Homo sapiens: one gene and its partners. The protein of the gene in region 1 purifies or fractionates together with the protein of each later gene. This does not show direct contact. Each region holds a gene or a part of one and is shown in the gene's direction. Other genes may lie near its edges. The genes, in order: ENPP6, TEDC1 and RIPK4.

Evidence for each region.
Region 2: the proteins of ENPP6 (region 1) and TEDC1 purify together in Homo sapiens (affinity purification with mass spectrometry; 3 studies listed by BioGRID and IntAct, with this or other methods). This does not show direct contact.
Region 3: the proteins of ENPP6 (region 1) and RIPK4 purify together in Homo sapiens (affinity purification with mass spectrometry, with the first as the bait; 3 studies listed by BioGRID). This does not show direct contact.

What each region holds. Positions count from the first base shown.
Region 1 is NC_000004.12:184,088,817-184,092,466, reverse strand, and holds part of ENPP6 (glycerophosphocholine cholinephosphodiesterase ENPP6 precursor), read left to right. Parts: exon of another isoform or gene 1-370; intron 371-1,084; coding exon 1,085-1,290; 3' UTR 1,291-3,650. UniProt on the Homo sapiens protein: Choline-specific glycerophosphodiesterase that hydrolyzes glycerophosphocholine (GPC) and lysophosphatidylcholine (LPC) and contributes to supplying choline to the cells.
Region 2 is NC_000014.9:105,494,207-105,497,107, forward strand, and holds part of TEDC1 (tubulin epsilon and delta complex protein 1), read left to right. Parts: intron 1-1,673; coding exon 1,674-1,880; intron 1,881-2,901. UniProt on the Homo sapiens protein: Acts as a positive regulator of ciliary hedgehog signaling. Required for centriole stability. May play a role in counteracting perturbation of actin filaments, such as after treatment with the actin depolymerizing microbial metabolite Chivosazole F.
Region 3 is NC_000021.9:41,760,541-41,764,190, reverse strand, and holds part of RIPK4 (receptor-interacting serine/threonine-protein kinase 4), read left to right. Parts: intron 1-3,650.

The sequences.
Region 1 (3,650 bases):
TGTTCTTGCGTGACTCTCGAGCTTGGGGCCACTCTGGGCAGAGGCACAGTGGTCTTCTCCATTAGATCGCTCAGAGCCTGCACATGGATCCCTGATTCAGATACCAGTTTGCTCATTTTCCACATGGCTAATGTATTTTATCTGTTGGTAAAATGCTCCCAAAGAGTGTTCCACTCATCTTCCAAATGTATTTAGGAAACCATCGCCATGGCTGCTGAGCTAGCGAGCACCGAGAAAACTGCAGTTTCACATTCCATCAAGACCTGTGACCTCGATGGGGCAGCAAAGTGAGAAAACATTCTTGAGTTGCCGTGCGGCCTCTGCAGTAGACGCTGGCACTCTGGCTGTCGGTCCGGGCTAGATAGATGTTCTGAAAAATGACATAGCATTTAATTTGGTTAAGGGCAAGACAGTCACTCTGTGACCATACAGGCTCTGCTGTGCTCTCTGCAGACATGGAGCAGCATCAGATGGCACTTCAGCCTCCCCGCAGCCCCCAAAGAAAGTGCTGTTGTCACAAAGAGAGCACAGTTATGCACAAAGAAAGTCTGTTTGCTGATTACCTTTTTTTGAGACAGGATCTTGCTCTCTTGCCCAGGCTGGAGTACAGTGGCACTATCATGGCTCACTGCAGCCTTGAACTCCTGGGCTTAAGTGATCTCCTTACCTCAGCCTTCCGAGTAGCTGGGAGCACACCACCATGCCTGGTTTAAAAAATTTTTTTTAGAGATAGTGTCTTGCTCTGTCATCCAGGCTGGTCTCAAACTCCTGGGCTCAGGCAATCCTCCCTCCTCGCCCTCCCAACTTGCTGAGACTACAGGTGTGAGCCCCCAAGCCTGGCTCTGCTGCTTGTCTTTTAAAGAAATTCATCTCCATGAGCCATAGAAAGCTGTTTCCCTTTCTAACCTACAGCCTTCCGGATACCCTTCTATGTTCACACTCACTAGGCCACACCCCACTGATGGAGCTGATTCCCTAATCTCAATGTCACCTGCAGCCTGAATGTAATTCTTCTTTATTGCGTTCAGCCCACCTCTGCCCTGGAGCTGCCATGACAACTTGTTTGTTTGCCTTTCCCTTTCAGATTTCAAATCCAACTTCAGAGCTGCTCCTATCAGGTCGGTGGACGTCTACAATGTCATGTGCAATGTGGTGGGCATCACCCCGCTGCCCAACAACGGATCCTGGTCCAGGGTGATGTGCATGCTGAAGGGCCGCGCCAGCACTGCCCCGCCTGTCTGGCCCAGCCACTGTGCCCTGGCACTGATTCTTCTCTTCCTGCTTGCATAACTGATCATATTGCTTGTCTCAGAAAAAAACACCATCAGCAAAGTGGGCCTCCAAAGCCAGATGATTTTCATTTTATGTGTGAATAATAGCTTCATTAACACAATCAAGACCATGCACATTGTAAATACATTATTCTTGGATAATTCTATACATAAAAGTTCCTACTTGTTAAAAAAGATACAAACCTTGTTTTTCCAGAAGGTAGGAAAATCCTAGCTTTCCATTTGTGCAGTTATATGTCATTTTCTCCTTTCTTTTCACGTTACTCAGGATGAACTCTCTGAGCAGGGACCTGCTCCTGCAGCAACCAAACTTGGAGTGGTTATTGCAGACAGACGTGGCTCTGGGCCCCTCTCTGTCCCACCTTGCACAAAGGACCCCCTCAGACCAGGCCCTTGTCTGTGCCCTGTCCACACCCAGGAGCCATCCTCAGTGTCTGTGGCCACAATCCTGTACTGTTCCTTCCATCCCTGATAAAAGGAGGTCTACATGAAAGCAAAAGCTACTGTCTATTTCTGACCCAGCTCATGGAATTTTTTCATCTTATACTGAGCTCCAGAAAGGACGTAACTTAGCATGGATCACCAATCAATCAAAAAATAAATAAATCACTAAGGATTGGAGAACTCATAGAACAAGGTGAAAGACATGAGTGCCCTCCCAAAGTCTGAGTGCACGAAAATTTCTCTCTTGCCTTGAGGAGCAGAAAAGCTTCTGATGGACATGGGCTTCTGTGAGACTTATCACACATAGTGTATCGTGGCATGAAGCCCGGCACATAGCAGGCCCTGCATATTGATGGACAAATGGATGGCCTGCCTGCCTTCCCTGTCCGTTCACCTGTGCAAAGGCTTCCTCAGACATGCCACTCTGTGGCTCCCAATATAGGGTGCAGACAAGAGCAATCCCTGACATGACATTATAGCCTGGGAAAGGGCTGGCTCACTGATGAGAATGTGGAGGCATCAGCAAGGATCTCGGTGGGTTGCTCAGAGAGGTGATGCACTAAGCCTTAATCCTGGACACCAGTACCCCTGCAGCATGGCTTGCTCAACAACAGTCTTTGAGTGGCATAGAATTCCAAAGAAAATGGTGCTGGGTGGAGAATGGAGAGAGCATGATGGAGCAGAGTCCCAGTCACTGACCAACTAACTGGTCGTTTGATTAGGAAACAGTTTGGCCAAAGTACCACCTTTGAGACCTAAGTTCTTTTGATACCTTTGAGAAGAGCCACTGAGCCTGAGTTGAAATATTTTTAGCTTAGTCATCTGTGTTTGCTATAGGAGAAATTGTAACACAAGAAATAACTCCTTTTTACATGATCATTTATATCTATATACATATATATACTTGCATACACTATCACTGCATTAAAAAATGAGTTTGGGCTGGGCATGGTGGCTCACACCTATAATCCCAACACTTTCGGAGGCCAAGGAGGGACAAACGAACCCTTGAGGCCAGGAGTTCCAGACTAACTTGGGCAACACAGGGCGACCCCCATCTCTACAAAACATAAAAGATTTTTAAAAAATTAGCCAGGCATGGTGGCACATGCCTGTGGTCTCAGCTACTTGGGAGGCTGAGGCAGGAGAATCATTTGAGCCCAGGAGGTCAAGGCTGCAGTGAGCTTTGATCACACCACTGCACTCCAGCCTGGGCAACAGAGCAAGACCCCATCCTCCACCCCCCCCAAAAAATAGAAAGAAAAAAAAAGTTTGCACTAATTGAGGTACATCTGCAAGTGAGACTTTTTGTCAGGAAAAGGCAATATATCAGGTCTCCTCAGGACGATGGAGGCCTTATATGGTGTGTTACCTTGAAAACTGAATATCAACGTTCACCTTGATTCAGGAAAGCTGGGTGCTGTCTCCATGCCATGAATCATGAGAGCAAAGGATCACTGCTTAAAAATACTGAATTTACCTTCACAAAAGATTTCTAAAGATTTATGTAATGTGTTTTAAAAGCGCCAGTAAACCATCGGATCAATTGGAAAGAAGGCAACTCTTCAGCCTTTGTTATCTAGCTGAAAACAAATGACAACTTTCAAAACATTGGCAGTAGTTGTTGAAAAAGACGTCTATTGTTCAAAGTTTCTTTCTCCTTAAAGGACGGTGTTCCAATGAATTCAGTAGAGCCCACTTTCCTCCACTGTGGAGGAAGAATCCCTAAGAGATACTCAAATGATTAAATTAAAATTGGATCATCAAACTCAAGAGAGGCATAAACTTAGACACAGTCTTGCATTTTTGTCTTTCCTGAACTCTTCTGCCATTTTCCTCCTTCACTCGTCCTGAAAATCTGCAAGTTACATAATAAAACTTTAGATATTTGTCTGACAAAGTGTAATTACTCAA
Region 2 (2,901 bases), on another chromosome or scaffold:
AGCTGGCTAAGGGCAGGCTGTTGGAATAAAGGAACACAGATCTCAGGTGTGAGCTGGTGGTGTTGGCATCTCAAGCAGGTCTCACTTGGTGTGTCAGGGGGCACCTAGGGGTGTGGGGGGCCAGCCCACACTGGGTGAAGGGTTGGGCACAGGGCTGACTGTGGGAGGGGACAACTGCCCTTCAGAACCCAAGGCCAGGCCCACATGGGGTGTGCTGGACCGAGCCTCCCAAGCTGGAGCCAGCTCCATAGGCCCTGGAGACTTGCAGTCCCGTTCTGCTTGCTACACCCGGACCACCCGGGGGCACGGCGCTTTCTAGGCAGGCCTGCCCCCGGCGACCGGGGCTCTGTGGTCCCAGGCAGATCCTGAGCCCTGGATAGCATAGACCTGGAGGAAAACCTGCCTCTGAGCCCCAGGTGGCTGTGTGACCTTGGGGAGACAGCATCCTCCTCTGACTGGGGCTGCTGGAGCACTGACCCAAGTGTTAGGGTTGACCTAGCCCCAGGCATCTTCCCCAGGGATGGCCGCTTCCTCGCACCCTGCTGCTGGCCTTCCATCCTCATCCTTCTTTCTGGGGGTCTGCCCGCCCGTCATCACTGGCTTCTTCCTCTTGGCTGGCTTGGTTTCAGGGGATAGGGCAGGGCTGGCTGCCACTCTTTTAATTTATTTTATTTATTTATTTGAGACAGAGTCTCGCTGTGTCGCCCAGGCTGGCATGCAGTGGCACAGTCTTGGCTCACTGCAACCTCCGTCTCCTGGGTTCAAGCGATTTTCCTATCTCAACCTCCTGAGTAGCTGGGACTACAGGCACCTGTCACCACGTCCGGCTAATTTTTTTGTATTTTTAGTAGAGACGGGGTTTTGCCACGTTGGCCAGGCTGGTCTCGAACTCCTGACCTCTGGTGATCCACCTGCCTCGACCTCCCAGAGTGCTGGGATTACAGGCGTGAGCCAACCACTTGGGCTGGGCTCTGTACTGTCCTGAGTGACGGGCTGGCACTGTCCTGCTCCAGGTGCATATGGCCGGGCAGGAGGGCAGAGGCTCAGGGCTGGTGTGACCTCTTCTTCCAGACCCAGTCCCCCTTCTCTGCCTCTTCCCTCTCCAATCCCAGAGACTTGGCCCCTGTACCTCATCCCAGGCCTGCCCAGGGGGACCTAGGGGTCAGAGGCGGATGGCCTGGCTCCTGGCCCCTAGTCTTGTGTCTGCTGGGGCTTCCTGCTCGTAGCAAGGGCCTGTGGGTTCCAGCTCTGCAGCCCAAGCCTGGGGGATTGCATGCCTCACTCATGGGCTTACAGGGCCCAACCCCTGACGCCTGCCTGGCCCCTGGTGCCAGCTGGACCTGTGTCCCTGGCTGAAGCCGGGCTGGCGCCCACCCAGTCAGCCTGCACTGGCGTTGGCAGTGCTGAGGCAGCATCCGGGCGTCCTGGTCTGCCCTTGTCCCTACCTGCCTTGTAGAGGCGGCTCAGCGAAGCCCAGGCTTCTGGCCCCTGGGACCCCTGGGTTGGGGCAGAGGAGAGGCTGCCCTGGCCCCAGGCTGCTCCTGCCCAGTGCCTCTGTGGGACCACCCTCTGTGGTGGGCTGGGGGGGCCTGGAAGTGAGGCCCCGCCCTCTCCCCGAAGCTGTGTGCGGCACTGGCCAGGTGGACTGGGGCCATGGCTGGCTTCCTTCCAAGGTTTCTGGAGCGGGAGCTGCCCAAAACCTGGACCTGGCCTACCCAAAGTGCCTGCACTCCTTCTGCACTCCTGGGATGGGTCCCAGAACCTTCTGGAATGATCTGTGGCTGGTATGTGAGCAGCCAGGTCTGCTGCCGGGTGACTGGGCAGCACCCTTGGATCCTGGTGGGGCCTCAGCCTGCAGCCTGCTCTCCCCTTTTAGGGCGGTAAGTCGGGGAGGCTGGCAGGGAAGTGGAGACCGCAGGACTTGGGGGTGGGTGGGAGGGGGTGGCGAGGGGGTGTGTTTGCTCCTCCTCTCCTGCCTGCTCCCACCCCTGGCCCTTACCTTCTTGGGAACTGTGGTGATTGCCTTCTGTCAGGTGTGTTGAAGCGGCCGTACCCATGGTGGAGGCCTTTGCTCTTCTTGTGGCGTGCTGGGGTGGGCAGGTGGGCTGCAGCCCCGGCACCAGCCTGCTCCAGCTCCCACACCGCCCACAGACCTCCCTGTCCTCATATTCTCTGACCGCAGGCCTGCCTGCCTCTGCTCTGCTCCGCCCCAGAGGGGCTGGGTTGGACCTGGTGTTCAAGGCCATTCCTATCTGCCCCCCAGCCCACTGCTGGAGCCCCAGGCCCCTGCAGCCTGCTCCACACTCTGGGTTCCCGGGGGAAGCAGGGGTAGAGTGGGGCAGGATTCAGGTGTAGAGGGCCTGTCCCCAGCAGGGGTCCCCTTGCCCCGGGCCCAGGGTCACTGGTACAGATAGCCCATGAGCGAACCTGGGAGGCCTTCCGTGTGTGGGCAGAGCAGCTGCTGTGTCCTGGCCATTCTCCAGCCGCCTGTCTGTGGGCACTGTGGGCAGGTACCTTTGTGCAGGGCCATGGGGCAGGCAGGGCGGGGTCTCCTGGCCCTGCCTGACCCTTCACTTGGGAATGTCAAGTGTGGCTCAGCTCTGCCTTCTCTGCCACCTGGGTCACTAGGCAGACTCCTCACTGCCTTAGGGGGTCCCTGAAGTTACAGGGGATGGGTTTTCCCTCCCCCAGAGCCTGGCTTGCTCCTTCGTTTGGGGCCTCCCCGTCCGCCTGCAGTCCCCGGATACAGCCCGCATTCAGTGAGGGCTGTGGGGCAGAGGTCTAGGCTTGAGAGGCACCTGGACCTGTCCCTGACCTTGTTGGACTGGCAGTGGGGCTGGTGTGGGGGACAGCGGATGTCCTCAGAGCCGGGGGGCAGCTCTTGCCTGGCAGGCAGGGCCT
Region 3 (3,650 bases), on another chromosome or scaffold:
TGCTTTTCTGTGCAGGAAAGGTTGGGGGGCCGCCCAGCCCCCAGACACTTAGCGAGGCTCCCAGGGACAGGAAGTGCCTGCCAGGGGGCCCTCCTGGGAGTTCACAGGTGACACCCCATTGATCTGAGATTACCTTCATCATGGGGCTCGGTGCCTCGGAGGGTCCTGTGGGGTGGCTTTGGAGAGGCAGCTGGCCTCCCTGGCTGACCCTCATTGTGGGGGTCACAGGGCCTAGGGTGGGGTGTAGGGATGGGTGCTGTGACCAGTTTGGAGAGAATAAAGTGATCCCAAAGGCCCCGTTCCTCCCCTACCAGCCCCCAGCTAAGGGGATGCTCAGAAGAAGCCAGTGCCTGCGGGGCGCCGGCTGGGAGACGCTCCTGCCACATTCAGCCCTGGCTGGTCGGGGCGAGCCTGAGCAAACCCCAGGTTTGTAACAACAGAGCTGACGATTGGACAAGCCCGTTTCTTGTCAGTTTTAAAAATAGCCGTGTGGGAACCCCTCCGAGGCTCCCTGGGAACATAATTGGATTGGTGTGCAGAAGGCCTCGCTGAGAGGCATCAGCTAACAGATGATGAAACACATTTTCCGGCTGCATTTTCCTGAAGGTAGTTGCTAGGTTTCTCCTTCGGAGCTCTTTGTTACCTGAGCGGTCTCACCGTCTCCCCCACCTCCCTGCTTCTCACTTTTCCCTTCGTTTATTGCTTCTCCGCTTGCACAAGACCATGTCCCGGGGCAGTTCTTTCCCCCTTTCCAGGATGCGTGCTTGCAGGGGAAACCGCAGCTGGCCTGGTCCACAGGTCTTTGGAATTTCTGAGCCTGGAGAAGAACCTTGGGACTTCTTTAGAAGTTCCTTTTAGAGATGATTGGTGTGATGATATTTCTCGTATTTCTCGCTACTCCATTGGCCTCCCTGGGAGGGCGAAATACACTTTGGCTAGCCCTAAATGAGGAGAAAACCGAATTCATCTAAGTGCTACTCACCGTATCTTTAAAAAGTTGAACCCCAAGTTAATCCTAATTAATGCCCAGAGATTTTTCATGTGGAACCCAAAACAGGACCCAGGACACTTTTGCGGGGGAGGGGGGGCTTTTCCCGTTCCTGCGTGGAAGCAGAATTAGCAACGCTTTCACCAGCAGCGAAGGAGAGGGGAATAGGATGCCACCCCCTCTGAACTGTGCCTAAGCGTAGCTGCGCTTGGAGCAAGGCACAGTTTTTAGGTTGTGTTTTAATTAACACCGACGAGAGGGGCTTCTGGTCAACCCAGAAACGTTGACTTCACTGTCAACAGTAAGAAATGCGATTTGGAGACGGTGCGAATGTGACTGTGTGATGTTCTGTGCTCCCTGGCCGCCACCCCAGCACCTAGGCTGGATTCGGCATCTCTCCACGTGTTAAAATGATAATAGTAATAAATCTACAGTTCCTTTTGTGTGGTCATCAGAATAAGCCAGAATCATTAAAATAAGCCAGAAACACTGCTTAGGAGAAAAAAATGTATTAAAAAAAATAGTGCCATTGCTCAAAAGCAATTGGTGGGTTCTTTCTGTGCTTCGAGTACCTGAGCACTTCTTAACCTCCCTGATCAGAAAAGCCTCTTCTTGCAGCTTGTTGCAAAGAGGCCCTTTCAGGCTTATTGAATTGCAAATGCCGCCGGGCGACACCCGACCCCAGAAGGGCTGGAGCTTCCTAAAGCCGCTGGAGTTTCCCAGATGTGCGCCTAGGGAGCACCTGGAGAGGGGCTGGAAGGCGGGGTCGTGTGGGTTTTGGCCCAGTGGTTACTGGATGGTAAACAGTGTGGAAAGTTTCTGAGGACATGCTGGTGCTTCTGAGCGAAATCCAGGCTGGTAGGCAAGGGAGCCGCCCCACCCCCACTCCTGGGCCTCAGATCTCCCACAGGGCGGTCCCGGGACCCCCTTCCTCAGCTGGAATCCTGTCTACCCCAAGCCAGTTTGGATCATGCTGTCACAACACTTTTGTCCACGGAAACAATGACTTTTTTTTTCCAGGACAGCTGATTTTCCTCGAGAAAGTGCCCTCAAATGTGTGGCCCATGGAAGGGGGAAGTCGTGCCGGGCTCCCTTCAGGCAGTTGCGCAAAGCTGGGGTGGACTCCGTTAGGAGATTCTAGCCGGGATCCGCTTTCAGGAGCCAACTAGCAGCAGTGGCCCTTTTTTGTTTGTTTGTTGTTTCTTTTAAAGTAAGGTAAATGGGGTCTCCGTTCTGCAGAAAGAGCCCGGGGCAGGGAGAGTAAAGTACTTGCTGAACTCGGTGCGCTGGGGAGGGGTGTGCACTGCTGCCAGCCCGTAGCTGTTAGAGTCGCCAATGAGCTCACTCTGCAATCAGAAGTCACCGGGGTTTTATGTATTAAGCCCTTTGGGCAAATAAAAGAAAACACTATTTGTGGAGTGGCTCAGAGCTTCCACTTAATAAGCTACTCAGCCTTCCTTTGATTGACATTGTTCTCAGAATACGTGTTTATTATCAGTCAGCTTTGGCTTAGAGAGTTCACTCTCAGAATGTCTACTTAATGTGGAAAAATGACCCTTGCGAATGGCTGGCCTCTAAACACCCGAATTGTCATTTCCTCAAAACCCTCCGGCGAGGAGGGTGTGCCTCACACGGTTGCACAGTGGATGTGGGTCTGAGTCCTACGGAAGGACTTTCGCCAGCGCCCCGGGGCAGAGTGTCCGGAGGAGGGAGGCCACACTGGTAGGGGAGGGGCGGCAAGCTGGCCACATTTGAGCAATCGGAAACAGACAAATCATAACTCTGATTCTTAACAAGACATAAAAGAGAAGCAGCAGCTGGTACCATGTCCCAGTCCGATGGTTTGGAAGTTAGTGGCAGTTGCCGGGTTGGAAGTTGTGCTGGTATTCCTTTAAATAACAAATGAGGGCCTCAGCCAACCGGTGTTCCCAGAGGAGGAGAAAGGCTGGGAGCTGAGAGGTGTCATTTTCCTTCTTTGGTGACCGGTTTCATTTTAGCTGATGCTTGACGTTGGCATCAGGTCCTCGTCTTCCTTTTTTCCCAATGCTCACTGAGACTGGGGACAGGGTTGAGAGTCCCACGATCTGATCTGCACCCCCCATCCCTTGATGGGTCCCAGAGCCTGGCCCAAGCCTGTGGCTGCAGGGAGAGGGATTTCCCCTGGAGAGGGAGGAAGCAGCCGATGGTATGCTGGTGATGGGGCAGCTTTCAGCTCAGCCCAGGGACCCCCACAGGCTAGCACTGCACACTGGTGGGCATCTTGTTTTCCATTAGTTGGTCATTTAACCAGAGCGCTAGGAAAGCAGGCCGTGCTCCCCTAAGTTTTGTCTCATAATAATTTCACGTTCATTCCTGATACTTGCTTCACTTGTTCCCAAGGCCAGTGGGATTCTTTGCTCCTTGAGTGTATTCAGACACACTCGACCTGCCCACCCCCCACACCCCCCAGCTGCTCCTCCTGGGGTGCTCCCGCGTCCACCGTAGAGAGCTGCCTAGTGACCCCTGGTGCAGCTCCAGAGAGGTCCTGCAAGCTTCTCCCCTCCACATGCAGTCAATGGACCCATCCTGCAGATTCTTCCAACAGAGTGTGTGTGCTCTGCTGGCTTCCCCTCTCTGCTTTGCCAAGCCCAAGGGGATCCACAGCGACTGCTCCGCTCTGCTG